Linked DNA regions of Homo sapiens. The protein of the gene in region 7 purifies or fractionates together with the protein of the main gene of each other region. This does not show direct contact. Each region holds a gene or a part of one and is shown on either strand. Other genes may lie near its edges. The genes, in order: APOD, SDR9C7, SNX9, ADD2, L3MBTL3, ADD1 and DPPA4.

Region 1 (2,868 bases), about 86 Mb from region 7:
CCAGAACGGGGGCATCTGGATTCAGGTCACCCAGAATACGCCTTTGCCATCAGCTTCCCCCACTCCAGAAACAGGATTGTTACCTTTAAATGAGGACAATTCAGTGCTTGGTTTTTTTCAACATAACTGCTTAAGGATTTTTTTTTCTGTTTTTCTTTTTAGAGGCAGGGTCTTGCTCTGTTGCCCAGGCTGGAGTGCAGTGGTGCCATCATAGCTCACTGTACCCTCGAATTCTTGGGCTCAAGTCATCCTCCTGCCACCACCTCCTGAGTAGCTAGCACGGGTGTGCACCACCATACCCAGCTAATTTTAAAAACATTTTTGTAGAGATGAGGTCTTGCTATGTTGCCCAGACTGGTCTTGAACTCCCGGCCTCAGGTGATCCTCCTGCCTCAGCCTCCCAAAGTGCTGGGATTACAGGCATGAGGCACCACAACCAGCCTGTTTAAGGATTTCTAAGCATAAGCTTATAATGAAAAACCCACAATAATTAATCCAACTTGGAATCTACTGCGAGCACAGCAGGTCAGCAACAAGTTTATTTTGCAGCTAGCAAGGTAACAGGGTAGGGCATGGTTACATGTTCAGGTCAACTTCCTTTGTCGTGGTTGATTGGTTTGTCTTTATGGGGGGGGGGTAGGGGAAAGCGAAGCAGAAGTAACATGGAGTGGGTGCAGCCTCCCTGTAGAACCTGGTTACGAGAGCTTGGGGCAGTTCACCTGGTCTGTGACCGTCATTTTCTTGACATCAATGTTATTAGAAGTCAGGATATTTTTTAGAGAGTCCACTGTTTCTGGAGGGAGATTAGGGTTTCTTGCCAAGATCCAAGCAAAATCCACGTGAAAAAGTTGGATGATGCAGGTACAGGAATACACGAGGGCATAGTTCTCATAGTCGGTGGCCAGGATCCAGTACGGTGCCGATGGCATAACTGAGAACCAGAGAGAGGCAGCATTATTGGAGGGAGAGGGCAAGAGAAATCTCAGGACAACACAAGAAGGCTGGCCCAGACAACCACCCACCAAGCCCCCCACCTCTGATTTTGTTTATCAATCCAGAAACAGAAAGACCCTGGAAAGAAGTTTGGACGAAAGCCTAGACTGAGTGTTTCTGACTTACCCTTTCTAGCACTGTTGGTGCCCTGCCTGCCTGCCTGCCTCACTCACCCAGAGAGAGAGACAGAGAGAGAGAGAGAGACAGCGTTATAGTCATCACCCATCTGCACATTTCAGCTGCTCTGTGTATTCCCAGGTGGACTGAGAACTCTTAAGCCCAGAGTGATTTTGCAAAAATCTGTCTCCCACCTCTGCCAGCAGCGGCATCATGGCCCACCTGCACTCACCCAGGCTGGCACATTCTGCCTTCCTCTCGTGGTCCAGTTCCGAAGAATAAATTTACCCAGATACAATACAGAAAACTTCACATGTCTCTCCTTATTTGAAAACTTTGACAGTCTCCTATTGTTTATGGAAGAAACTTCAAGCCTTTTAATGTGGCATTCAAGGCCCTTCCTAACCTCATGCCCCTCTTCATGTACACTCCCAGGCTCTAGGCCTCTTTATTCAGGCCTTCTTCTTCTTCGTTTTTTTTTTTTTTTTTTTTTTTTTTTTTTGAGATGGAGTTTCACTCTTGTCGCCCAGGCTGGAGTGCAATGGCGCGATCTCAGCTCACTGCAACCTCCACCTCCTGGGTTCAAGCGATTCTCCTGCCTCAGCATCCTGAGTAGCTGGGATTACAGGCACACGCCACCATGCCCAGCTAATTTTTTGTATCTTTAGTAGAGACAGGGTTTCACCATGTCGGCCAGGCTGGTCTTGAACTCCTGACTTCGTGATATGCCTGTATTCAGGCCTTCTTCTATGTTCCAGTTCCCTTCACTTGGAAATCCTTTTCCATAATCTCCCATAATCCTACAAGGCCTAACGCAAACATCTAATCCTTGTTATGCATGTAATAGTTAGCTTTCACTCCAATCCCCGTCCCTGATCCCTATGGGAAAAATACTCAGTTGAGAGTTTGGAGACCTAGGTTTAGGTCCCAACTCTACTTCTAATGAGTTCAGTGATGGCCTGCGTCACTCAGCCCACCTGCACTTTAGCTCCCTTCTTGATAAAAATAACAAGAGAAACTGTGTATAAAGCCCTTTACAGTTTACAGAGCGTGTGTATCTGGTTTATTTTCACGACACTGGGCAGTTATTTCTGGCTTGTACATGTGAAGTTAGTTGTCCATATTCATAGTGTGAGAAGAACTGTTTTCTCCTCCCAGCATTCCTTTCTTGGTCTATAAAATTAGAACTTCCTCTCCTCCCCGCTCTAGGCACTTGACTGGTGTGGGGTGGAGGAGTGGCAGAGATGAGAAGTAGGAAGTGCAGGGAGTAACTTTTGTAGCTGATGACTTCAGTGTCTACCCTGCAGGTGGGAAAGGGGCTTTCAAGCACTCTTCGTGTTAGAAAGCCTCACAGTTCTGGGTTGAACTCTCTAGTGTATCTTCGTCGGAAATAAAACTAATATTTGGTGCTTTCTCTATTGCCTGTGTCCCTTCCTCAGTTAGCTCAGAACCCAGAGGCAAATGCCTGTCATTAGGTATCTCACAGGATCCCCAACAATGTGACTGGAAAGTGGCAGAAGCAGGATTCAAACTTGCCGTCACTCTTGTCATCTCTTGCTTCCTAGTTTCTGCGCCGTGCAGGTTGTTCTGCTAATATCTGCTAATGTTTCGGGCCCCAGTTTCCTTTGGGAAACAAGACTGGGTTGTGTCTTCTGCAGCCCACACCCGGTGTGCACCTACTTGTGTTTCACCTGTTGAAACGCTAGCTAGTTATAGTAAATTGCGGGGTCACGTGTCAGTATCCACACTGGGATGTGA
Region 2 (4,034 bases), on a different chromosome or scaffold from region 7:
ACTAAAACAGTTGTTTCCAGGCTGTATTTTGCAAGCCTTCTAGGGGGAGGAAAATGCAGGAGAAGCTCTCCTTTCATTTGTTTTACATATTGGGGTTCTACTGTAAACCCCTCTAAACACTCCTCAAGGACCCCTTCCAGCTCCTTCATGCAAGGATTCCCCAAGTCCTACTGCCTGGTGATTCGCACCACAGCCCCAGCCTCAGCAGCCCCAAGATACTCTGCAGGCGCATCCCACTGTCTCCTGAGGGCAGGTCTCAACACAAACATAAATCCTAGTCCACCCCTCCCTCTAGGGCTGGGGTCCCCACCCAAGCCATGCCCCTACCCAGTCTCCCTGCCTTTCTCCATTCAGGAGCAATGAGAAAGCATGAAAGAACTTCCTCTCCCATCCCCCTACCCACCCCAGTTCCCAGTGTTTCTTAGACCAGGATATTGCCAAGTGGCTTAGGCAAAATAATGGTCCCCCAAAGATGTCCCCATCCTCATTATCTCTGGAACCTGTGAATCTGCTGGATTACATGGGAAAGGGGAATTAAGGTTGCAGGTGGAATGGAGGTTGCTAATTAATTGTCCTTAAAGTTAGGGAGGAAGCTAACACGGGAAATTATCCTGGATTAACCTGGTGAGCCCAATATAATCACAAGTCCTAAGTGGAAAGAGGCAGAAACCGGAGAATCAGAGAGCTTGAGAAAAGTGTGAAAAAGACTGGGCCCAACCTTGCGGGCCTTGAAGATGGAGGTAGCAGGCCAGGAGCCAGGGGATGCCAGCTGCCTCTGGAAGCTGGAAAAGTCGATGAGACGGATTCTCCTCTACAGCCTCTAGAAGGAACACAGCTCTGCTGACTTTGATTTTAGATCAGTGAGGCCTATTTTAGACATTACTCCTCCACAACTACAAGATAATATGTTTGTATTGTCTTCAGACCCCACAGTTGTGTTATTTGTTACAATAGCAACAGGAAACTCACATGCTAAGTGAGGTATTAAGGCAAGTGGCTCAAGGCTGAATGTAGGGAACTGGCTGAGACAGCCTGCTGAAGACAGAGGCTCACTCTTGCTGAATTATTAATTAATTAGCTCACTCAAATCTATTTATTCAGTACCTTACTAGGTGCCAGACATTATTCTAGGTACTAAGGATGTACAGTAAATAAAAGGGACAAAAATCCTTGTCCCCAGGAAGCTTTATTCTAGCAGAGGAAACAGACAATAAATAAGTAAAATCTATTGTACATTGACTAGTGATAAGTGCTAAGGAGAAGAATCAAGCAGGGAGTTACTGTCTAGATCCCCCTGGCTCCAGGGCTCTGTTGCCCTGACCTGCGCATGGGCTCCAGACTAGTTCCTTTAGGAGGGAGGACTTCCTCTAGTCTGCTGCTTCTGCAACTCAGCCATCCTGTTCCTCCTGTTCCTGGGCCCACACCCTGTGTGCTGGAAGTGCATGAGGCAGGTCCCCACACAGTCCTGGGCCAGCCCCAGTCCACAGCTTCCTTTCCCAATAGGAGCAGCCACTGTGACATACATACTTGCCCTGAAGTCAAATCAACACCCACCATGATGTCAAGAAGAGACCAGATCTCTTTCTCCCCTGCCTGACATAGTCAAGGAGACAAACTGCACCCACTCATGGGATCCAGCCTCCTGTCTCATTCCCCCTCCCCCATCCTGATCCCAACAAGAAATGTGTTTGTATTTCCCCAGGAGCTGATGGTTAGGACTGCTGAAACATCAGAGAGGCACATCCTTTTTTTTTCTTTTTTTTCTTTTTGAGAGGGATTCTTGCTCTGTCACGAGGCTGGAGTGCAGTGGCGCAATCTTGGCTCACTGCAACCTCCGCCTCCCGGGTTCAAGTGATTCTCCTGCCTCAGCCTCCTGAGTAGCTGGGACTACAGGCACGTGCCACCACACCCAGGTAATTTTTATACTTTTTAGTAGAGATGGGGTTTCACCATGTTGGCCGGGATGGTCTCGATCTCTTGACCTCATGATCCTCCCACTTCGGCCTTCCAAAGTGCTGGGCTCATAGGCGTGAGCCACCACGCCCAGCCAGGCACGTCCATTTTTAGAGGTTTGGACACACAGAACACATCTTCCCCCCTCGCTTCCTATTGAGACCTCTTTCCCGTTTCTCTGAGTTTCCAGGACAGAAAACTTCCTTGGGAAATCACCCCTTCATGTGAACAGGCCAAACCATGCAGTGGCTTCCAATCAGATTGAGGCAGGGGCCTTTCCCTACATCACCCCTCCCACCCAATCTGGACATCAGGGTCTCTGATACTGTCAGATGCTTCGGGAGAGAGGAAGAGGAAGAAGGAGAAACCAAGAAAGCCAAAGAATGTAATTCGCCCCACCTTGTTCGCCCACTTTGTCCCTCACCCACTGGGCCGCCGCCTTGATGCTTTCGCTCTTGGTGACATCCAGTAGGGTGGTCTGCAGCCGATAGGAGGTATCCCGCTGAAGTTTCTGGGATCCCTCCTCAGTGAAGCAAGCAGCCAGCACCTGCATGCCCCGATCAACCAGCTGTTTGGCCAGCAGGTTCCCGAAGCCAGAGTCACAGCCTGTGATGAAGACGTACTTCTCTGAGAGGTTGCCAACCAGATTGCAGTTCTTGAACCAGCGATACATAAATGAGAGGTCTGTGAGGGCCGCCATAGGGCAAGGGGAATGTGATGGCCAAGAGGGACTGGGCTCAGGAGACAGCAGGGAAGAAGCTGGTCCTCTGAGCCCTAGCAGGCAGTCTGCAGGAAACCACCTGGAAGAAGAACTCTCCTTCCTCCCACAGCTTGCAACAAATCTAGGTCCCTGGGTGAGCCACGCTGTAATTTTTATAGGTGGATGCATCACCACAGCAATTAGCCCAGATGCAAGAAATTCAAGTCCAACCTGAAGCCTTGTCACCTCTGACAGCCCTGGTAGCTGCCTCCCTCTCTCCCCCTGCCCTGATGGGTAAAGCTGCCAAGAATTGGAAATAATCCACTTGTAATGTTGGTGATGAGTGGTGGCTCACCCAGGCGGTGTAAGGCAGGCAAATGAAAGATGAGGACTCACCCCAGACAGCTCCCCTAGAAATCCTGTCCCCACCCTGCCCCCAACCCAGCCTGGGGATTTTGGTCTCCAGGGATCAAAATCATTTGTCGTGAGTGCAGGTATGTAAATAAGTTTATTTTCAGGGAAAATACTCAAGACAAATTTATTAATGTAAAACAAACAACATTGGTTCTGTACCTTCCAAACCCCAAGAGAAACAAGTCGCAGGTCATCAGCTCTCTGGAATTCTTAGGTAAGTCTCCATCATGAGAGAGGATGAAAAGCAATGGATTTCTCCTAGGGTGGATGTACCTCCATTGTCCTGAGGCTAGAGGCAGCAGGGCCCTCCTATAGGGGAGGCTGGCATGTGAAGCTTAGCCACCAGAAAGCAGAAAGACCTGGGGGACTCAGGCCTGACACCCTGTGGGGGTCATACTCAGGTCACCAGTAAGCAGCCCTGGGCAAGATGATGAGGAGGGATCATGAGTTCACTGGGCAGCTGAGGGAATTGTCTGGGCAGAGGCCTTGACTGTAAGAGGGGATGAGATATAGGAGGAGCAGAGAACTGGGGCCAGAGACATAGAAAATTCTCAGGGTCGGGACTTGGAGGAGAAACAGAGATTCTAGGCAATTTAGCAAATAATTTACAGAAAGCTAAGAGGTAAGGTGGTAAAGGAAAGGAAATAAGGAAACCAGAGGTGTGAGTAGTGAGGGGCCACACCCAGAATTGCATAAGATGCAGGGAATGATGCTGGAGCCTCTGTGGTTCTTTGGATCAACATCTAGGGTCACCATTCCTTGGGATGAGCCTGGTCCTAGCTCACACCTTCATGGCTTAGCGAGTCTGACACAGAAATGGGACCACAAAGTTCTCTAGTGTGAAGGGACAAAGGATGTATCTCTGTGATCCACCATTTGCCAAGTCTGACCAGCGTGGAATCACATAAAGCAGGTGTCACCCTGGGAAAGCCCCGCAGGGTTTGGCCGTTCCTTAACAAAGTAGGGG
Region 3 (3,500 bases), on a different chromosome or scaffold from region 7:
AGGCGTTTTCAGCAGTGTCCAGCTCGCAGATGCCACCAGTATGGCTGAGCAGAGGGCTTGCTCACCACTCCCCATGAACATGGCTTAGATCCCATGGCCAGAGGGGAGCTGGGTAGGCAGCAAGGCCGCCAGCGGAGGCTGGATTCTACATTACAGACCTTACCTGCAGGTGTCTGAGGGAGACATGCTACTAGATTTTTGTTTTCTATAGACTCTGGTAAACAACAAAATTACTAAGCAGAGGTAAGAAAAATTTAAGTTTTCGTTATTGTTTTGTGAATAAAACCATCCCACATCTCGCTTTTTTGGTTTTCTCTCTGCGATTTCCATGGCGCACTGTGAAAACCTCATTCACAAAAAGCAAAGGCTGCCTTTGGTTTCCTGTGTGGTGCCAGGCTCCTGTTCCAGCTGCCAACGGAGTCCCAGGGACGGCTGGGTGACCTCATCTCATTCAGCACCGTTCCTGGTGCACAGAGGCACAGAGAGGCTGTGACGGGGGGAAGGAGCTGCACAATAAGGAACTTCTTGGGGCCTTGCAACTAGCATCCAAGACCCCTGCTTCAGAAGAAAATCTTTTTTAACCCAGTGTTATCCAAAAAGCAAAGGGCAGATGGAATTAGGAGATTAAAAAAATCCTGTCCAAAATTTAGGCTCCTTTGGTTTATTACTTAGGATTAAAGAATACAAACAGATTAACTTTACATGGTCAAAGTGGTTTACCAGGAACCCTCTCCTCAAGCACATGCGAAAGGCACGTGGACGCCCACTCACCGTTTCGTAAAATTGCACTTGCTGCTCCAGGTACAGGCGGATGACACTGTTGTAATCATAGATCCGGTTACTGTGAAAGTGATTCATCTCAGCTACAACCCAAATCAGAACATCAATCAGTTTTCCCTCAAGTTTTCAAATGACAACACCTGGTTTCTCTGCTCAGTTACAATTAATCATCAACCTGACCTAATCTGGTTGGCTGCTGTTGTCAGTTCTTGGTAAATCACTTTACTAAGAGGTTAGAAAAACAAGTTGAGCTGGGCGCAGTGGCTCACACCTGTAATCCCAGCACTCTGGGAGGTGAGGTGGGTGGATCACCTGAGGTCAGGAGTTCAAGACCAGCCTGGCCAGCATGGCAAAACCCCATCTCTACTAAGAATACAAAAATTAGCCGGGCATGGCAACAGGTGCCTGTAATCCCAGCTACTTGGGAGGCCGAGGCAGGAGAATTGCTTGAACTCAGGAGATGGAGGTTGCAGTGAGCCGGGATTGCACCACTGTACTCCAGCCTGGGTGACAGAGCGAGACTGTCTCAAACAAAACAAACAAAACAAAACAAGCTAATGACAAACATTACTTTCCAGTAAATGAATGACTTTCACTGTCTTGCATATTCAAAACTATAAAATCCAATACAGATAAATCACCCAAATGCAGCCTATTACTCTAACAGAATCGATCAAATAGAAAATACTTGGTCATATTTGTTACAGATGACTGCAGTTCAAAGCCTCTGGTGTGTCTGCACTGGACCTAGCAGGCAGCTGGGGTCCCTGCCCCGCTCCCTCCTGCACAGCAATTGCTTCAGCAGGTTTCTGGTGAAAGGCTGGGCAGCGTGTGGGACAGCGGGAGACCCTTCTTCAGTACGGGAAGCCTTGCTGCCCCTGAGCACCAGCGACGCTGTCAGAACTCAACCTCTCACAGGGCAGGAGGACTGGATGCTGAGGGACAACTTTCTTCATGTTTGCTGAATACATGGATTCCTTCTTTCTCTGTCCCCCCTGCCCCTGCCCCCAACTCTAGAGGAGTCTTCGTCATCAGAGGACCTCATTGCCTCCCTCGGATGCCTCCTATGCCGCCTTCTCCCAAACCCTCCAGGCTGAGAAAGCCAGCGGCTGCACAGATTCCCATGACATGCAAACTGTTCTACATTTTACATTCAGTTACTTGAAGTTATACAAAGCTTTGTATTTCTCAATTTGGATAACCTCAAACACAAGTTCAAAACCAAACTCCCCATTTCAAACCCTTCAAAACCCGAAACTTCAATCAGGGTTCCTCGTTTTTGCCGTAGTGGCCTGGCTCTGGACACCTCCCTCATCCTTCTCTTTCTCCCATGAATGCCCCAGTCTTGAAAGCTGTTCCTTGGAAAAGCCTGCAAATGTGCTTCATTCTCTTCTCCCCAGTACCACATCTTTAGGCCCTCAAAGCTCAGACTACAACAGTGAGATGGTCTTCTGGCTGGGCTCTTGGACAGTGTCTGCATCTTCCAATCTCCCCTCCATAACCAGCAAATCCTTCTCCCTTGAGGATTGATTTTTTTTTACTCCCTTTTAATGGCTTCTTAATGCCTGCATCAAGTCTAGAGCTTTCAAGTTCCTTCACAATCAAAATTTATTTCCCAATAACCTCTAAGTATGTTTTACTCTTTCATGCCCATGACACAATCTAGCACCACAATTTTGTGGCTTTTGTTCCTAACAGAACACGCTCTCCATTCTCTGCCCATCCAAGTGCCATCCACCCATCCGCCAACAGGAAAAATCCACTTGCTGCCCTCATCTGCTCAAAAACACTCAAACCTATAGAAATTCATCTTTTTTTTTTCTTGACACAAAAAAATTGTGCCTAAAATGACACACCCAAACCCCTTCACATTCCATGATCCCAAGGCACGCAGGTTACAGACTGCTAAAAGCTGGGCTCTGGCATTTAATAGAGCATTATGATACCACAGATTACAAAAGGAATCTTAAATGTCTCTCAGAAATAATAAAATGTACAGTTTTAATCAAGCTGTCATCTATAGCCAGATAAGGTGGACAGGTGAAAAATTAAATAAATATTACAGATTTTCATCAGCACCGGGATCCTGCAAACGAGGGGCTTAAAAGGTCTCACTTACTTAACTGCTGCTCACATCTGGATTTCTCTCTATCAAGGGAAACTTTGCTGGGGAAAAAAAAACTTCCACCAGCACCTCATAAGGACCCTTTCATCTTACCTTGCAACGCGTAAGACATGATGCTGACTCTCTTCACCATGTTCTGTTTGTCTTGTAGGGTGATTTTACTTGTTGCAACTAGTTTGTCACTTTCTTTCACTTTTTCTATTGCTCCCTGTGAAATATAAAATGCAACAGTATGAATAAAGCTGAAATGATTAGTCATTAGTTTAAAATATAACAATGCTAATATATTCTATAACTGATTTGCTACTGAACAGGAAATACCTCCACAAAATAAGAAGAGAGGAAAGCATCTAAATTTAACTTCCTTCAAGTCCCTTGGAAGCAAAAAGGTTGCTATTCTTGACAAATGTCACTAAGCTAAAATGAACAGTTTTATGCTACAACAAAAGAGAAAAGCAAACAGCACACCATCTCTGTAATATTCAGAAGCCGCTGCCATTTGAGGAGTAGCACGTAATGGAAATCAGGCATTAGCAGGTTTTGGAAGTCATGTGGCTAGGTACAGGGCAGCATGTGCACACAGGCACTCTCTCTC
Region 4 (3,500 bases), on a different chromosome or scaffold from region 7:
GAAAGCCTGAAAAGATACCTCCAAAGGCCAATTTTAGGTTCTATAATAGTGATATTATTTACAGGAGTAATTGGGGAAGTTGCAAATCGTGTGACCTCTGGAATAATAGCTGGTAATTATTTAACTATGCCTACATTTTAGTAAAATTCAGGCCCCTTTCCTCTTCCTAACTTGGTGGTCTTTCATCAGTTTTACAAGGATAGTTTAGTTTTTGGGAAGGGCTATCGTCATTTACACTATAAACTAAATTTCTCCTGAAGTTAGTTTGGCTCACATCCAGGAATGAGCAAAGCCAGCCAGCTTGTGAGGCTAGAAGCAAGATAGAGTACTGTCATAATTTTGCAAAGGTGATTTCAGTTTAAGGTGGACAATTATGCAAATATATACAAAAATCAGTAGTTTTTGTATCTTAACTACTTTGAAAATATAATAATGGGAGAAAATAATCCTATTTGCAAATGGATCACAATCATAAAACACTAAAAAGCATAATCCGTGTTTTTAAAACCATAAAACTTTATTAATAGACATCAGAGAAAACCTGAAGTCAGTGAAGAGCTATAATTTATTCTTGGTTAGAAAGCTTCAATAGGGTAAAGAGGTTACTTCCCCAAAATTAATCAATAAAGTCAATGGATTTCTTTCAAAAATGGGGGAAGGTATGAGGACTTGACAAAATATCCTTCCATGTGAAATTCAGAATGGCTAGGGCAATGTTATAAAAAGAAAAGTAATTAGGAATACTAATTCCACCTCATGACAAAGTGTGATAAAACTTTGGCAACTAAATGGCGTGGCACTAGCAGAATGGATGTGCAAAACAATGCAACAGCTTAGAGAATCCAGAAATAGATCCAAAATATATGAGAATTTAACACAGGAAAAGCAGGCACTTTATAAATCAGTGAGGGAAAGATAGACTACTTGCCATCTGGGAAGGAAAGCTAAGGCAGATGCTACTTCATTTATTTCAACAAGATAAATTCCTGGTTTGTCAAAATGGTAAACATAAAAAGTGAACTCATAGGGGTATTAAAAAACATAGACTTATGTTTTTGATGCCCTTGTGTTAGGGAAGACTTATCAAGCACGGCACAAAAGGCTGCAATCTTGACAAATATTAATAGATATGATATTAAACAATTCAAAACTTGCATTTCTATAAGCCACTCCCCCACCATAAACAAGGTAAAAGACAAAGTATGGAGGGAAATATTTTCACCATCTATGATAGTGAAAAAATTAATATTCTTAATTTACAAAGAGCTTACAAATCAATGTGAAAAACAGAAACATCAATAGAAAAATGGGCTGAGAACATAAACAATTTACAAAGGAAAATAGTTAAGTAGCCATTATATGTAATTGGAAATATCCATTTTACTAGTATCAAACATATATGGACACACATGTATATGCATAGAGATATGACTGGAAAGGTTTTTAGTGATTGTCTCTGGGGTGAGAGTTTGCATAAAATTCCGTTTTTTCCTTATTTTTTTTAATTTTGCTTAATTTTTCTACATGGATCTGTATTTCCTTTATAATCAGAAAAATAATGTCATTTTAATTTAAAAATAAAAGAAGACAAAGAGAGCTGAATATTGCTCCAACAGCTGCCAAGATTCCAGAATGTTTGTTCTCTCCAAGAAGCAGTCAGCTCCAGCTTTGAGGGGATGTGGCCTTGCTTAGGAGACAGGAATGTTCTTGAGTCTGATTTCAGGGTTCCTAGAAGGAAATTGTTAAGAAGTTTCACAGTCAAGGAAGGGAGGGGTGACTGTTAAATCAGCTGGGAAGCTTTTAAAGATCCTGTAGCCCAGGCCACACTGTGATCTGATTAAATGGGCAACTCTGCATCAGGGCCCAGGCATCAGTGTTTGTGTGAAGCTCCCCCCGTGATTCTAGTGTACAGCCAGGGCTGGGAGCCACTGGACCAGAGGAAATCTGTGGCTCCATTTGGATGAGGAGCTCTGTCTATCTGGTCCACAAAGGTCTAGGGATTTTCTCAGCCCTGATCAGAGGACTTGTTGGGGTAGAGAAAGAGAGGGGATGGGGGACCAGGAGGAGGGAACAGTTCTGAAATATACCAGAAGAGTGGAAAGCCTAGATTGTTTAATGGAGATTTGGGTTTACATGAAGAGTCCTTTAAGCAGACGGAAGGAAAGGTGTGTGTGCATGTATGTGCAGGTACAGGCCTTTTTTCTCACCCCATAAGTGGTTCTATTTTTGTCCTTTATAGGGCTACAGAACAGGTTACACGTATCGCCACCCCTTTGTTCAAGAGAAAACCAAACACAAAAGTGAGGTGGAGATTCCAGCCACGGTCACAGCCTTCGTGTTTGAGGAGGACGGTGCCCCGGTGCCCGCCCTGCGACAGCATGCCCAGAAGCAGCAGAAGGAGAAGACCCGCTGGCTCAATACGCCCAACACCTACCTGCGGGTCAATGTGGCCGATGAGGTCCAGAGGAGCATGGGCAGCCCCCGACCCAAGACCACGGTAAGGGGGAGCCCAGGACAGACCCGGGCAGAGAGGGGCAGGCTGCATTAGCAGGGTGAAGCATTTTTAAAACGGGAACAGAACAAACCTCTCCTGCCCCAGGTTAGTAGCATCCTCTTTGGGCTTCCTATTAGGCCTCTGGGAGCAGCTGCTCAGGCCCACTGAGCCCCTGACCACTTCTTCCTTGCACCTCTGCCTGAGTTTTTGGGTCTAAGGAGCAGATTTCTCCAGAGGGCAGTTGGACCAGGCACATGACCCAGAACCAGTTGGTTTGTGCTTCTTTCTCCCACATCCACAGGGGGCTCTTGGGAAATTCAAGGGAGGAGCATTTAACATTGGGACTTCAGATCTGATGCAAGCCCAGGAGGTGGGCTGTACAGCCACTTCTATGAAGTTATATTTTCTCTCCCTGTCCCCACCCACAGGCTCTCAATTTTTTATTAACATAAAAGTAGCCAACAGCCAAATAGAATAGCTCTTCATAAAACAATATGAAGCTCTCCAAACTCAAATCAAGTTACCTAATACTGAAGCCCAAGTGGTTGCCTGTGTATCAAAGCTGGTTCCCAAGGTTCTGACCCCAACTCTTGGATGTTCTTTATAGCCGACCTTTGGCCTGAGGGCCTTCATTGGTAACTGGGTCATCTGTTGCCATTCTCTGCTCCTGGAGACAGACATCAAAGAGGCCTAAGAAGAGAGAGTGTCTATGAGTAGGCTTGCTGACCTTCCATGCAGGATGTTGGGCCCAGATCTCGTGGGTGGACCACTGGGGAGGACTCATGGGCCTGTTCCCTCACCTCAGCCCCATGACCTTGTGTTTGTGCAGTGGATGAAGGCTGACGAGGTGGAGAAATCCAGCAGTGGCATGCCGATTCGCATCGAAAACCCAAACCAATTTGTGCCTCTCTATACTGACCCCCAGGAAGTACTGGAGATGAGGAACAAGGTAAGTGGGGTCTGTTTATCCCACTCTTTCTTCTCCCACACTGGGGGGTCTCAGGTC
Region 5 (3,500 bases), on a different chromosome or scaffold from region 7:
TCAGTGGGCTCCAGAGCAGTGCTTGTGACTGTGATGCTACCCACTAAAGATGCATCCCTGTGCTCCTGGTGTCAGGCAGAGGCACTCACCATTTCATCATCTCTCTCTTCTCCATCCTCCTTGGTGTCAGCTTTCAGAGATAATTTTGGTTTTTTCTTCCGACTACACTTAGGATCTTCTTCCTCATTGTCTTCTTCTACGTCCCTTTCTTCCTTCTGATCTCTGTTGTGTTTATAAACCCAAAATAGTGACAAGAGACAATACCTATCAAACATCTACTTGTTGATTATCAATGCAACAATCATTAAAAAAAAATCACCCTGCAAAGGAAAAATCTTTAACTACCAGGAGAAATCTGTAGGCATGAGAATATCATATATCAGGAACACTGAAAACAACTATTACATATGACATCTGTCTGTCAGGGCAGAAAATGAAAATTACCTTATATATTAATTTCAAAAGGGGGCCAGCAATATGTATGAAATAGGTTCTAACAAGTTATTTGTCTGTCACATCTACCATCTATACTAATAAAAGAATTGATTATTTAGAGATATTTGTTTTCAGGGTCAAAGAAGGATCTAGCAGTTATTAAGAATGACAAATCCAATTGAAAAAAGGCTAAGTGTAACATTGTGAAACATCAGTTATCCAAGAAAAACAAGACAGTTCCAGTTGGGCGCAGTGGCTCACACCTTTAATCCCAGCATTTCGGGAGGCTGAGGCAGGCGGATCATGAGGTCAGGATATTGAGACCATCCTGGCTAACATGGTGAAACCCCGTCTCTACTAAAATAGAAAAAACTAGCTGGGTGTGGTGGCGTGCGCCTGTAGTCCCAGCTACTCGGGAGGCTGAGGCAGGTGAATTGCTTGAACCTGGGAATGTGGAGGTTGCAGTGAGCCAAGATCACGCCACTGCACTCCAGCCTGGCGACAGAACAAGACTTCATCTCAAAAAAAAAAAAAGAAAAAGAAAACATTTCCCAAGCCTGTGCTGATTAAAATACATGGGAAATGCCACTAAAATATAAATGTCCAGTCATTTCTTTGTAGTATACAATGATATGCAAGAAAAACACCTTCTTGGTGATAAGCTGAACTTTGTCAGACTGTCCCCAAATGGGAAGGTCACACACCACTACCAGTTACAGCTGATGCCTCTGTCTCATAATCCTCAGTCCACACCTTGAGATCATCAGTGACCCAACTCACTACACTCTTCCCTATGGCCATTTCCATTCAGCTGATTACGAATCAGTGGAAGCTTTATGCCGTAGGTGGAGTTTTAACCGAGTTACCTAAGAATTCCCAAAATATAAACAAAACTATGTTTCTATAAATGTCAGTGTCATCGAAATGTGTATATAGCCCAGAAAAAACTAAATACTCTTAGCTGAAGACAATCAAATGAATGGAAATGGAAGACTGAAGGCAGAGGCAGAGGCTGTTTTGCAGGCAGAATATTAGTAATACAACTCAGACCAGGCATGACAGACGTCACCAGGTCCCATATAGGGGTTAGGGCCCATGTGGCCCTAAAGGAAAAGTCTCTGGGAAAAAGGTATCAATAGGTGATCAATGTCCGAGAGCATAAAACTTCTATATTCTCAGGCACCATGACTTTGGAATCTAAAACTCAATTTATAGATGGAATGGGGCAAAAACCTACTTATCTTTGATGTGCCGAGCACAATTCTGGCTGCAATAGTTTCCTCCAGAAAGACACTCATCTACGTTGCCATACTGACAACAGTTCTCACAGAACTGAAGCCCTTCTACTTTCACTGGATCCTTCAACCTGAAAGGCATCCCAGTCTTCTCTGAAAAGACTAGAAGATGAAAAGAAGAAATGCAAATTACAACCATGACAGAAGACATTCTAAAATACAATCAAACTTTTTCTTCTAATAATTTTGTTAGCAACACAATAAAGAATAGTGTTTGCTGAATGAATGAATGATCAAATGATAGTGTTTTCGGGGGGTATGGGCTCTGTAAAAATCACTCAAGTCATTCAAATAATGAAAAAATATTCTGCAGAAAGGATAAAAGCTTGCCCAAGGCTTTTTCTACAGAGTTCAAAGTAAAATGAAGAAAATTTCACTAGTCACTAAATTCAGAAGACGCATATATCGATCTATAGAAACTTCTTCTATATTTGTATCTTTCAGAAAATTTCAGAGGATCTTCTTTTATTTCACATTTATAATCTTTTGATGAATGATTTTGTTTTACTTAATTGGCTAAATCAACATCTCTTCTATTACGCTTTCAATGTAGTACATTTCCTGACTCATAGCTATCCAAATTGTGTAGAAACTCGCATTTCCTTTTGCCTGAATTGTTAGGCTAATCATTCATTCAGCCAGCAGTTATTAGGCACCAATTTATTCTAGACATTAATAATGACAGTAGAGACCTTGCCCAAGAGAGCTCACAGTCTAGAAGAAAAGAGAGGCAAGAAAACCAGTATTTATAATAAAATGTGATACATGCAATACTAGAGGCATAAACAAGGTCCAGAAGTAGTACAGAAGAAGTGATTCATTCAGCCTGGGGTAAGGTCAGAGAAGGATTTTCTGATAGAAAGCCTCAACAGGGTTTTGAAGGCCAAAGAGGAATTTACCAACTGGACAAAGAGAGAAATGGCATTTGAGCCAGAAAAAGCAGTATGAGTAAAGGCAAGAAAGCATGAAACCACATGATGTGTTGGGAAAATTACACGTAATTCTGTGCTGCTGGCACTGCCAGAACACAACATACAAAGAAGGAAACAGAGACTGAGGAGACAAGGCGAGCAGGTAGGTGCAGGCACCCAGATCTTTGTATGTTCTGCTAAAAAGGCAATGAGAAATCAGTGAAGTGTCAGATAAGCAATCTACGTTAAGTTCCTCTGGCTTCAAGGTGCAGGACCAATTGGAAGGGGGTAAAATTAGAAGTAGAGTGACATCTGCAATAGTTCAGATGAGAGTTGAGAAGAGCCTACATTAAGGCCATGGCAAAGATGATAGATAGAAAAGGCCAGATCTGAGACATATTAGGAAATAAAAATCAAGAGGTATAAGTAACAGGATATGGGGATGGGAAGAACAAATTCAGGATGACTCCTGTGTTTCTTGCTTGTCCACTGGGTGGATGGTGCTATTGTCAACTGAAATATGGGTTAGGGAAGAAAGAGCAGGTTTGTGGGGAGGGGAGAAAGAAATAGAAAATGAATTGCATTTCAGACATGTGGAGTTTGAGGTACCTGTGGGACATCCAGGTGGAGATGTCCAGTAGGCAGGTGGAAATACGGGCCTGGAGCTCGGGGGAGAGGTCGGGGCTGGAGATGTAGATTTAGGAGTCATCAGCATATAGGTGTTAGTTACAACCATCGGAGTAGATGAGAAAAAAAGTGGCAGGCTTTTGGCTAAATCACCTGTGTAGGCTACAACATGGATTTACTTAATTTCCAACTAACCTTGTGCTACTACAGATCTGGCATTAGGACAAAGAAG
Region 6 (3,500 bases), on a different chromosome or scaffold from region 7:
TGAACCAGCGAGGGTGGAAGGGCACTCGGGAGTGGCCGCTGCCAACAGCAACAGACTGCCCAGAAGAGGCTGTCTGCAGTCAGAGTCATGGAAAAGGCAAATTCTGAAACCCAAAACACGCACTGACCAAAGTCCCGTGCGGAACTGCAGAAATGCACCACGTTGCTCAGACTGGCCATTTCTCAGTAACAACTTCGAATGCTGGAAATTGTTATCACACCTCATAGCAAATGTTTTAATTAAAGAATCAAGTAGGTAGAACAGAACCTTCTGTACAATCTCACAAACAGGTTAAAGATCCATTTGAAGCTACTTCAGTAACTAAGACAATGCCTGAAGAGAGGAGACGGGGAGGGGGGAGGGGAGGGGAGCAAGGCGCATAGACAGGTAGTGAGGACAGGGCAGTGAGTACCTTTCTAAAAGAGAGAGATTTAGCGGGACTAAAGGTCTGCTCTGTAAGCTCGAGCCCTTCGATAGTTTCCGTACAGTCAGAGAGAGGTGCATCCTGAAACAGTAAACTGAGTCACCAGAGCACACCAGGCCCAGCCTGTGAAATATCAGCTGAGAGCACAGGATGGAGCTGGCTAAGAGCATGCAGCAGGGACAGCTGTCAACAGTAAGTGTGGCAGTGATGATGGCAGGACGTGCAGACACTGAACACGAAACCAGGACCACGGCTGGACAAATCCAACAATCGTCTACCCCTGCAGAGTCAGGTGTTAAAGCATTAGGTGGCATATTAGTTTTCAGAGATAACTACTTACACAATTATCTTCAATGTGCCACAAGGTAGAGTCATTTTGTAGAAATGTGTGTAAATGTGCACCACACTTACAGGCACCCACCCCTCTGCAACCCAAGCAGCACTTTGTTGCAGACAGCAATATGTACCAGAACAAGAGTCCCTAAACCCACCCTCTCCTAGCGCCTTACACAGAACGCTGCTGAACCCGGGCCGAATCTGAGCCCCAAAGCTGGTGGTGTATGTGCCACCCTCACATATGCATGCATTACAAGGGGCATGACCAGAGGGGTGGACACAGCCCTCAGCATGCTCGCTCCTTCTAGAACTCAACGAAAAGTGCCTGAACCGTTTCTCATCATGAAGGTTTTAACAAAGGTAACTGGTTGCCTAGAATACTTACCTCATAAAGTCACTCTCTCAATTTCAGAATAACTTTGGAGCAGGCGGTCACACAGCCACCACCCACTAAAGTCAGAGACACTCTGGGCTCTCACCTGGACGAGGCTCCTGTCCATCACTACACCACACAAAACCTGGGACTGAGGGCCAGCCGTCTTAATGTCCTGTAAATTCTGCTCTCGGATCTGAGGGTGGGAAGGAGAGGCACACATCAACAGTCCTGAGCAGCCATGCTGCCTGGGAGCCCTGCTGCTTGTGCACTTGGGCCCCAGCCACATGGAAGCTACATTTCAGCTCTCCCACTGCCCCACGCAGGCAGGATGGCCCCATGTGTTCTGAGTGACCGCCATGCCTGCTTAGTGGGGCGTGGGTCTGCAGGGATGGAGACTATTCCCAGCTCCCCACATCTTCCAGATGCTTGGGCAGGACACCTATCTCTCACTGTCATTAACTTGGGGGAAACACTCGCTGCATGTCCATCGTCTAGTGATGTGAGCACTGGCAGGGCTCCTGCTCTGATACACCAAATGCCACTCACAAGTCTTTGAACGAACCCTGAAAGGGACAGCAGTCTGCTCTTGCTAAGAACAGGTTTTGCAGCTTCCAATTCTGACCGGTGAGCAAACATCGTGAGCAAACATCAGTTCAAGAATCAATAGGGCCCAAAAAATGTCTGCTGCTCATACTTCACACTGGTGGTAGAACAGCAGCGGTGTGAAGAGATGGCTTCACTGCAACAGTGGCAACAACAGCAGATGCCCTCTGCTAGAAGCAAGCACCCGCTCCCCCCAAAGCAGCTGGCATCCCTTCCAATCCCACACCCAAGCCCCCGCTGAGTGCCGACGCAGGACGCACCTTGTTCCTCATCTCCTGGACCTCTTTTGGGTTAGTGTTCAATGGAACAAACAGGTTAGGGACAGCAGAGGTGGAAGTTCTATGTCCATCCTCTTTAGTCCACTGTAATATCAAGAACAGTTGAAAAGTCAGAATTATGACAACAATAAGTGACATAGCATCCAATCTATTCAGTTTATCTCACATCTGGTCATGCACTGAACATCACAGAGAGGACTGAACCAATGACCACATCTAATCTGGGTCACTCAGCAGAGTCGCCATGGGAGCAGGATGCAGCCACATAAAGACCAGTTAATGCTGGAAGTCAAAGTCATGACTGATGGAAAACCACCATCTGGAAAGCCCAGCTGAATCTGGGTCATAAGGTAGGCTGACGACAGAGCTGAGCCCCATAACCCTGGGACCAGCAGGGGAGGCCCCTCAGAGACCATTGGTTCACTGCTCTGAAAATCATCCAACACCAAAGCCAACTGGAAGCATGAGATGACAGGGTCATGAAAAGCAATGTGATGCTGCTACCCAGGGTTAGGGAGGAGCCTGCACCGTGAGGCAAGAGTGGGCATCACCAAAGTTTTGCATTAAAGTAAATGACAGCATCAGAATGCACTGTCTGCGTAACTTTCAACCCAAGAACATTACTGTATGGACACTTACACGGTAGCTACCTGGAAGAAGAGTTTGGTGATGTCGAATATTTTATATAACTTAATATTTTTGAGTGCTACAAAAATATCCCAAACAAACTTGAAGCGCTTCATGAGTCCTTAATATTTAAAGGCTGTTTTAGTATCAGTGCATCTCGTCAGCATGCTGAGCCTTCCACCCATAATTTTTTTTTGGATCTCCAATCAAATCTGAGATTTTTAATCAAATTCTAAGGCATGAGTAGGCACTGAACATTAAAACAAGCCCATCTTCGAGAGCAAATGTTATGCCTTTCAGAATACTTTCGAGAGGCAATAAGATAGCCATAAACCATACGACTTTAAAAAAAGCAACAAAACCAGCAAATGCTGAGCCACTGCGAGGAGAGTGTGGAATGGGCATGGAGCTCTGGGTACTCACTGATGGTTATCTTCTCAGATAAAAACAACTCCAGCGTTTTATTAAAAATAATTTTTAGTCAAAGCATTTCAAACAGCAACCTCAGAAACTTGAACACATTTGAAAAAGTAACAGCAATCATTATAAATGAAAAGATACCAACCTGGGAGCACTGCATGGACTCTGTCACTCCAGAACAGTAAGAAACAAATATAAATGCGGAGCAAGGCCTCCCCTTGGATGTACACATTGACTACTAGGCCTAAAGTGACTTAGTTGTTTTGCAAGCTAATGGTAAATAAAGCTCGCGCTGCTGCCTAAACGCTTTGGAAAACTTCCTCATGGCAATTCAGCACTGTGCTTCACATCAGCCGCAGAAAGGTGTTTTGGGGTTTTTTTTTTTTGTTTTATAACGCCCACTTCCTTTAACAAGTGAAACAAGTAAAAAATAAAC
Region 7 (4,288 bases):
ACACTGCTCTCCCTGACCAAGCTCCAGCCACATAATTCCTTTCCTTTCCAAAGTTGTTACATTCCTCAGCCCCAACCTCCACCCTACTTCTATTTACACTTTAAAATCTTACACCTTAAAAATCTTACTCTTCTTTTAAAAGTCTCACCTCAAGTGCTATTTAACCTGGTCCTTCCAGACCAATCTACTAAATACTACCTCATTTCTACCACTTGTTAATTGCAATTACATTGGTTTGTGTGATTTCTTTTTCATCATAGGCACTCAATAAATATTGGTTCATTGAATTAAAGGAAGCAAAGTGGGAGTGGGGAAAAGTTGTTTAATCCAGAGACAGTAACATATATTGAGCCTCTGTCTCATACTAGGCATTGGCTTTGATATGCTCCTCACTTTCATTTTTTTAAAAAATATTTATTTATTAAAGAAAAGGTCTTGCCCTGTCACACAGGCTGGAGTGCAGTGACAGGACCATAGCTCACTCCAAGCTCTACCTCCCGGGTTCAAGTGATCTTTTGCCTCAGCCTCCTGAGCAGGTGGGACTACAGGATAATTTTTTGTAGAGGTGAGGTCTCCCTATGTCTCCCCCCACTGATCTCAATCTTCTAGCCTCAAGCAATCTTCCCGCCTTGGCTCCCCAAAGAGTTGGGATTAAAGGCGCGAGCCACTGCGCCCAAGGGTTCCCTATTTTCTTTTTCTCTGAGAGGAGTCTCGCTCTGTCACCCCGGCTGTAGTGCAGTGGTCCAATCTCGGCTCACTGCAACTTCCATCTCCCCGGTTTAAGCAATTCTCTGCCTCAGCCTCCCCACTAGCTGGAATTACAGGCGCCTGCCACCACACCCGGCTGAATTTTTCTATTTTTAGTAGAGATGGGGGTTTCACCATGTTGGCCAGGCTGGTCTCAAACTCCTGGCCTCAAGTGATCCGCCCACCTCAGCCTCCCAAAGTGCTGGGATTACAGGCGTGTGCCACTGTGCCTGGCCTTGGCCTTCCTTTTTTCATTCATTTAATTCTCATAGCAATCTGGCAACAATTACTTCTCAGACACAGAAGCTGAGAATCAGAGGTAACATAAAGACACAGATTAGGGGTACATTAGATATAAATTAAAATTTAAATATAAAGGCTAGGCTCCGTGGCTCACGCCTGTAATCCCGGCACTTTGGGAGGCCGAGGTGGGCTGACCGATTGAGGTCAGGAGTTCGAGACCAGCCTGGCTAACATATCGAAACTCAGTCACTACCAAAAATACAAAAACTACCTGGGCGTGGTGGTGCGTGCCTGCAATCCCAGCTAATCGAGAGGCTGAGTCAGGAGAATCGCTTGAACCCGGGAAGCAGAGGCTGCAGTGAGCCGAGATCGGCTACTGCACACCACTCTGGGCGACAGAGTCAAACTCATTAAAAAAAAAAAATTAATATAATAAAATTTCTCCTAAATCTAAATCCTTTTCTTCACTTTCAGGGTGGATTACTGGACAAATTAACATTTGTATGGCATTTTTACATCTCTATAGCAGTTCTACATTTTGATTTGAAATTTATATTTGCATAAACCTTACAAAAAGTACTCACTTTGGACCTCACAAAAGACTTAAAACCGAGACAGTTAAAAATGACCCAGTTCAAGTCAAGAGGACCTGAGAGCGCTCGGATATGGCCGTTCAGTGCCTGTGCAACGTCTTAAATCCTCTCTTCCTTCAGTTTCTGTCTGCATTGTTCCCAATGTCTGGCTTCTGATTACTCCTAGGTCCTAAGGACGCTGGGAAAAGGGGACGAATTCATTCTCAGCACCCTCGGTTTAGGATCTGTGTCCGTCTAAAGGAAATTAAGGGGTTTCATTCTTTTCCAAACTCAGCTCAATTACCTCTTCCTAAAATCTTTCCTTTAACACCCTTTTCTCCTGTTACCATTTCCCTCTAGCCCCCATATTCAGTTAGTTCTTTCTGACAGGACTAAGCACCTCTTCAAAACAGAAAACCCGGGCCGGGAGCAGCGGCGGGCGCCTGCAGTCCCAGTAGCACTTTGGTAAGCCGAGGTGGGAGGATCGTTTGAGCCTGGGCGGTTACAGTGAATAGTGATGGTGCCACTGCACTCCAGCCAGGGAGACAAAAGTGAAACCCTGTTCCAAAACACAAACCTGAAAACCTAATTTTTTAACTTTTTCTTTTGAGGTGGAGTTTCGCTCTGGTTGCCCAAGCTGGGGGTGCAATGGGGCGATCTCGGCTCACCGCAACCCCCGACTCCCGGGTTCAAGCGATTCTCCTGCCTCAGCCTCCCGAGTAGCTGGGATTACAGGTGTGCGCCACCACACCTGGCTAATTTTGTACTTTTAGTAGAGACGGGGTTTCTCCATTTTGGTCAGGCTGGTCTCGAACTCCCGACCTCAGGTGATCCGCCCGCCTCGGCTGCCCAAAGTGCTGGGATTACAGGCGTGAGCCACCGCGCCCGGCCTCTTTTTTTTTTTTCCCCATCTTTTGACACACTCAACCTCCTCAACTAAACCTAGAAAACCTCATTTCTTACTTGTCTGCTCACTCCAATATACCAGGCTGCAATCATATTCTTGGGCCTTACTCTTAAAATAAAAAAAAAAAAAGTCAAGAGGAGAAAATTCGAAGGCACATTCTTTTCTCCTTAAAGGAAAAATCAGGAGTGCCCAGGGAAGACAGAAACACAAAGACAGACAGAAAACAAATCCACTAAAACTGTACTGACCTCCTTGCCTTTTGCCTTCTCCATACTTGTAGAAGAAGCGGAGCCTCGCAACATGCTTCCAAAATGGCCCCTGCCCCAAGATTGCTATTTGCAAAGTCTCCTCCCACTTCCTGCCGCCCGAAGACCCTTTTTCTCTCCACCTCACCTCTTCTTTTCTTCTCCCCTTCTGTTCCCTCCCCCACAATTTGTAAATGCTAAAATTGCATTCTTTCTTATTCATGGGGTGACTTTTGTCTGGGTTGAATTACTAATACTATTCCTGGCCCTTTTCTGTTCACTTTAAATGTAATTATCCAAAGTATGGTTCCGGAGACATTGGGAGATTGAGCACTCCTTCAGAACGATTCTACGGGGAAAAAAAACAAAAAACAAAAAACAAAAAAACAGTGGCCAGAGACTTGAGCAGGATGTGTGAAGGGATTTAATAATGGAACTTGTGGCAACAGTAGACTTCAGAGACCAGACTGGCGGCTTGAAGAAAGCTATTTTCTCGTACCAAATACATTCCATTTCCTAAGTAAGTTACTCAACCAACTAAAACTCCAGGTTTCTCTGTACTAATACCGAGCATCTTTTCATCTGCCAACGAACTAATAATAGTAGCTTTTAAAGTCTATAGAGTATTTGTTATTTATTTTGTAGAGGGCAAGTGGGGGGGTCTGGCTATTTTGACCTGGCTGGTCTCGAACTCCTGCCCTCAAGTAATTCTCCAGCCTTGTCCTCCCAAAGTGTTGGGATTACAGGCGTGAGCCACCACTCCCCGCCCGAGTATTTTTTTATATCTCAAATTGTGAGTTTTAAATTCAGTCATTATTGTTCCCCATTTTATATATGACTAAAGTTGGTATAAATTTTTATTGGTAACTTTTTCAATAGCACAGTAAGTGAACCCCTAACCTACTGACTCCCAAAGAAGTTCAAGTTTTTCTCCTTAAAATAATTTGAAAAATCTTTCCTCAGATCAGTGCTCCCTGTCAGATTGTCAAGAGATGTGAAGTGAAGGAAGCAGTGGCTGTGCGACTGAAACCCTCCCTTGTCAGGGTCCAAAGTCTCTTTTGTTCTTTGGTTTACTTTGTTGTTTTTTTTTCCTACATCTCATTGCTTGTCCTAAAATGATAAATAAGAGACTGTCTTTATCCAAATGGTGTTAGTAATCTGCTCACAGGCTAGAAATCCACGGACAGAAAAAGTAAGTAAACGGAGCCCAGGAATAGAGAAGGAAGTGCAGGTTGTGGACTGGGCAACCCCCAAGGCGGCAAAGAGGAAACCAGGTGAGTTGAGGTCATCTGGGAGATATTAGGGCTTTGATTTAACAATTCTTTACCACAGCCTTTGGTAACCACCAGTAGGACTTTCTAATTAAGGTTTGTGTATAAAGTGTATAACTGAATCATCTTTCTTTTGTCAGTGTAATTGAACGTAACATTCAGAATAACTGGAGTTCTGGGCTGGGCATGGTGGCTCACGCCTGTAATCTCAGCACTTTGGGGGGCTGAGGTGGGCAGGTCACTTGAGTTCAGGAGTTTTGAGACCAGCCTGGCCAACAATGGCAGAACCCCTTCTCTACTAAA

The links.
Region 1: the proteins of DPPA4 (region 7) and APOD purify together in Homo sapiens (affinity purification with mass spectrometry; 3 studies listed by BioGRID and IntAct, with this or other methods). This does not show direct contact.
Region 2: the proteins of DPPA4 (region 7) and SDR9C7 purify together in Homo sapiens (affinity purification with mass spectrometry; 3 studies listed by BioGRID and IntAct, with this or other methods). This does not show direct contact.
Region 3: the proteins of DPPA4 (region 7) and SNX9 purify together in Homo sapiens (affinity purification with mass spectrometry; 3 studies listed by BioGRID and IntAct, with this or other methods). This does not show direct contact.
Region 4: the proteins of DPPA4 (region 7) and ADD2 purify together in Homo sapiens (affinity purification with mass spectrometry; 3 studies listed by BioGRID and IntAct, with this or other methods). This does not show direct contact.
Region 5: the proteins of DPPA4 (region 7) and L3MBTL3 purify together in Homo sapiens (affinity purification with mass spectrometry; 3 studies listed by BioGRID and IntAct, with this or other methods). This does not show direct contact.
Region 6: the proteins of DPPA4 (region 7) and ADD1 purify together in Homo sapiens (affinity purification with mass spectrometry; 3 studies listed by BioGRID and IntAct, with this or other methods). This does not show direct contact.

What each region holds. Positions count from the first base shown.
Region 1 is NC_000003.12:195,568,205-195,571,072, forward strand, and holds the end of APOD (apolipoprotein D precursor), read right to left. Parts: intron 932-2,868; coding exon 696-931; 3' UTR 501-695; downstream 1-500. UniProt on the Homo sapiens protein: APOD occurs in the macromolecular complex with lecithin-cholesterol acyltransferase. It is probably involved in the transport and binding of bilin. Appears to be able to transport a variety of ligands in a number of different contexts.
Region 2 is NC_000012.12:56,931,609-56,935,642, forward strand, and holds the start of SDR9C7 (short-chain dehydrogenase/reductase family 9C member 7), read right to left. Parts: upstream 2,801-4,034; 5' UTR 2,654-2,800; coding exon 2,353-2,653; intron 1-2,352. UniProt on the Homo sapiens protein: Plays a crucial role in the formation of the epidermal permeability barrier.
Region 3 is NC_000006.12:157,938,246-157,941,745, reverse strand, and holds part of SNX9 (sorting nexin-9), read right to left. Parts: intron 3,114-3,500; coding exon 2,999-3,113; intron 864-2,998; coding exon 772-863; intron 1-771. UniProt on the Homo sapiens protein: Involved in endocytosis and intracellular vesicle trafficking, both during interphase and at the end of mitosis. Required for efficient progress through mitosis and cytokinesis. Required for normal formation of the cleavage furrow at the end of mitosis.
Region 4 is NC_000002.12:70,677,701-70,681,200, reverse strand, and holds part of ADD2 (beta-adducin), read left to right. Parts: intron 1-498; exon of another isoform or gene 499-1,728; intron 1,729-2,239; coding exon 2,240-2,497; intron 2,498-3,018; exon of another isoform or gene 3,019-3,184; intron 3,185-3,323; coding exon 3,324-3,443; intron 3,444-3,500. UniProt on the Homo sapiens protein: Membrane-cytoskeleton-associated protein that promotes the assembly of the spectrin-actin network. Binds to the erythrocyte membrane receptor SLC2A1/GLUT1 and may therefore provide a link between the spectrin cytoskeleton to the plasma membrane.
Region 5 is NC_000006.12:130,049,581-130,053,080, reverse strand, and holds part of L3MBTL3 (lethal(3)malignant brain tumor-like protein 3), read right to left. Parts: intron 3,431-3,500; coding exon of another isoform or gene 3,326-3,430; coding exon 3,251-3,325; intron 1,833-3,250; coding exon 1,673-1,832; intron 223-1,672; coding exon 90-222; intron 1-89. UniProt on the Homo sapiens protein: Is a negative regulator of Notch target genes expression, required for RBPJ-mediated transcriptional repression. It recruits KDM1A to Notch-responsive elements and promotes KDM1A-mediated H3K4me demethylation.
Region 6 is NC_000004.12:2,906,344-2,909,843, reverse strand, and holds part of ADD1 (alpha-adducin), read right to left. Parts: intron 2,102-3,500; coding exon 2,000-2,101; intron 1,330-1,999; coding exon 1,240-1,329; intron 506-1,239; coding exon 413-505; intron 1-412. UniProt on the Homo sapiens protein: Membrane-cytoskeleton-associated protein that promotes the assembly of the spectrin-actin network. Binds to calmodulin.
Region 7 is NC_000003.12:109,334,747-109,339,034, forward strand, and holds the start of DPPA4 (developmental pluripotency-associated protein 4), read right to left. Parts: upstream 2,801-4,288; 5' UTR 2,772-2,800; coding exon 2,718-2,771; intron 1,962-2,717; exon of another isoform or gene 1,575-1,961; intron 1-1,574. UniProt on the Homo sapiens protein: May be involved in the maintenance of active epigenetic status of target genes. May inhibit differentiation of embryonic cells into a primitive ectoderm lineage.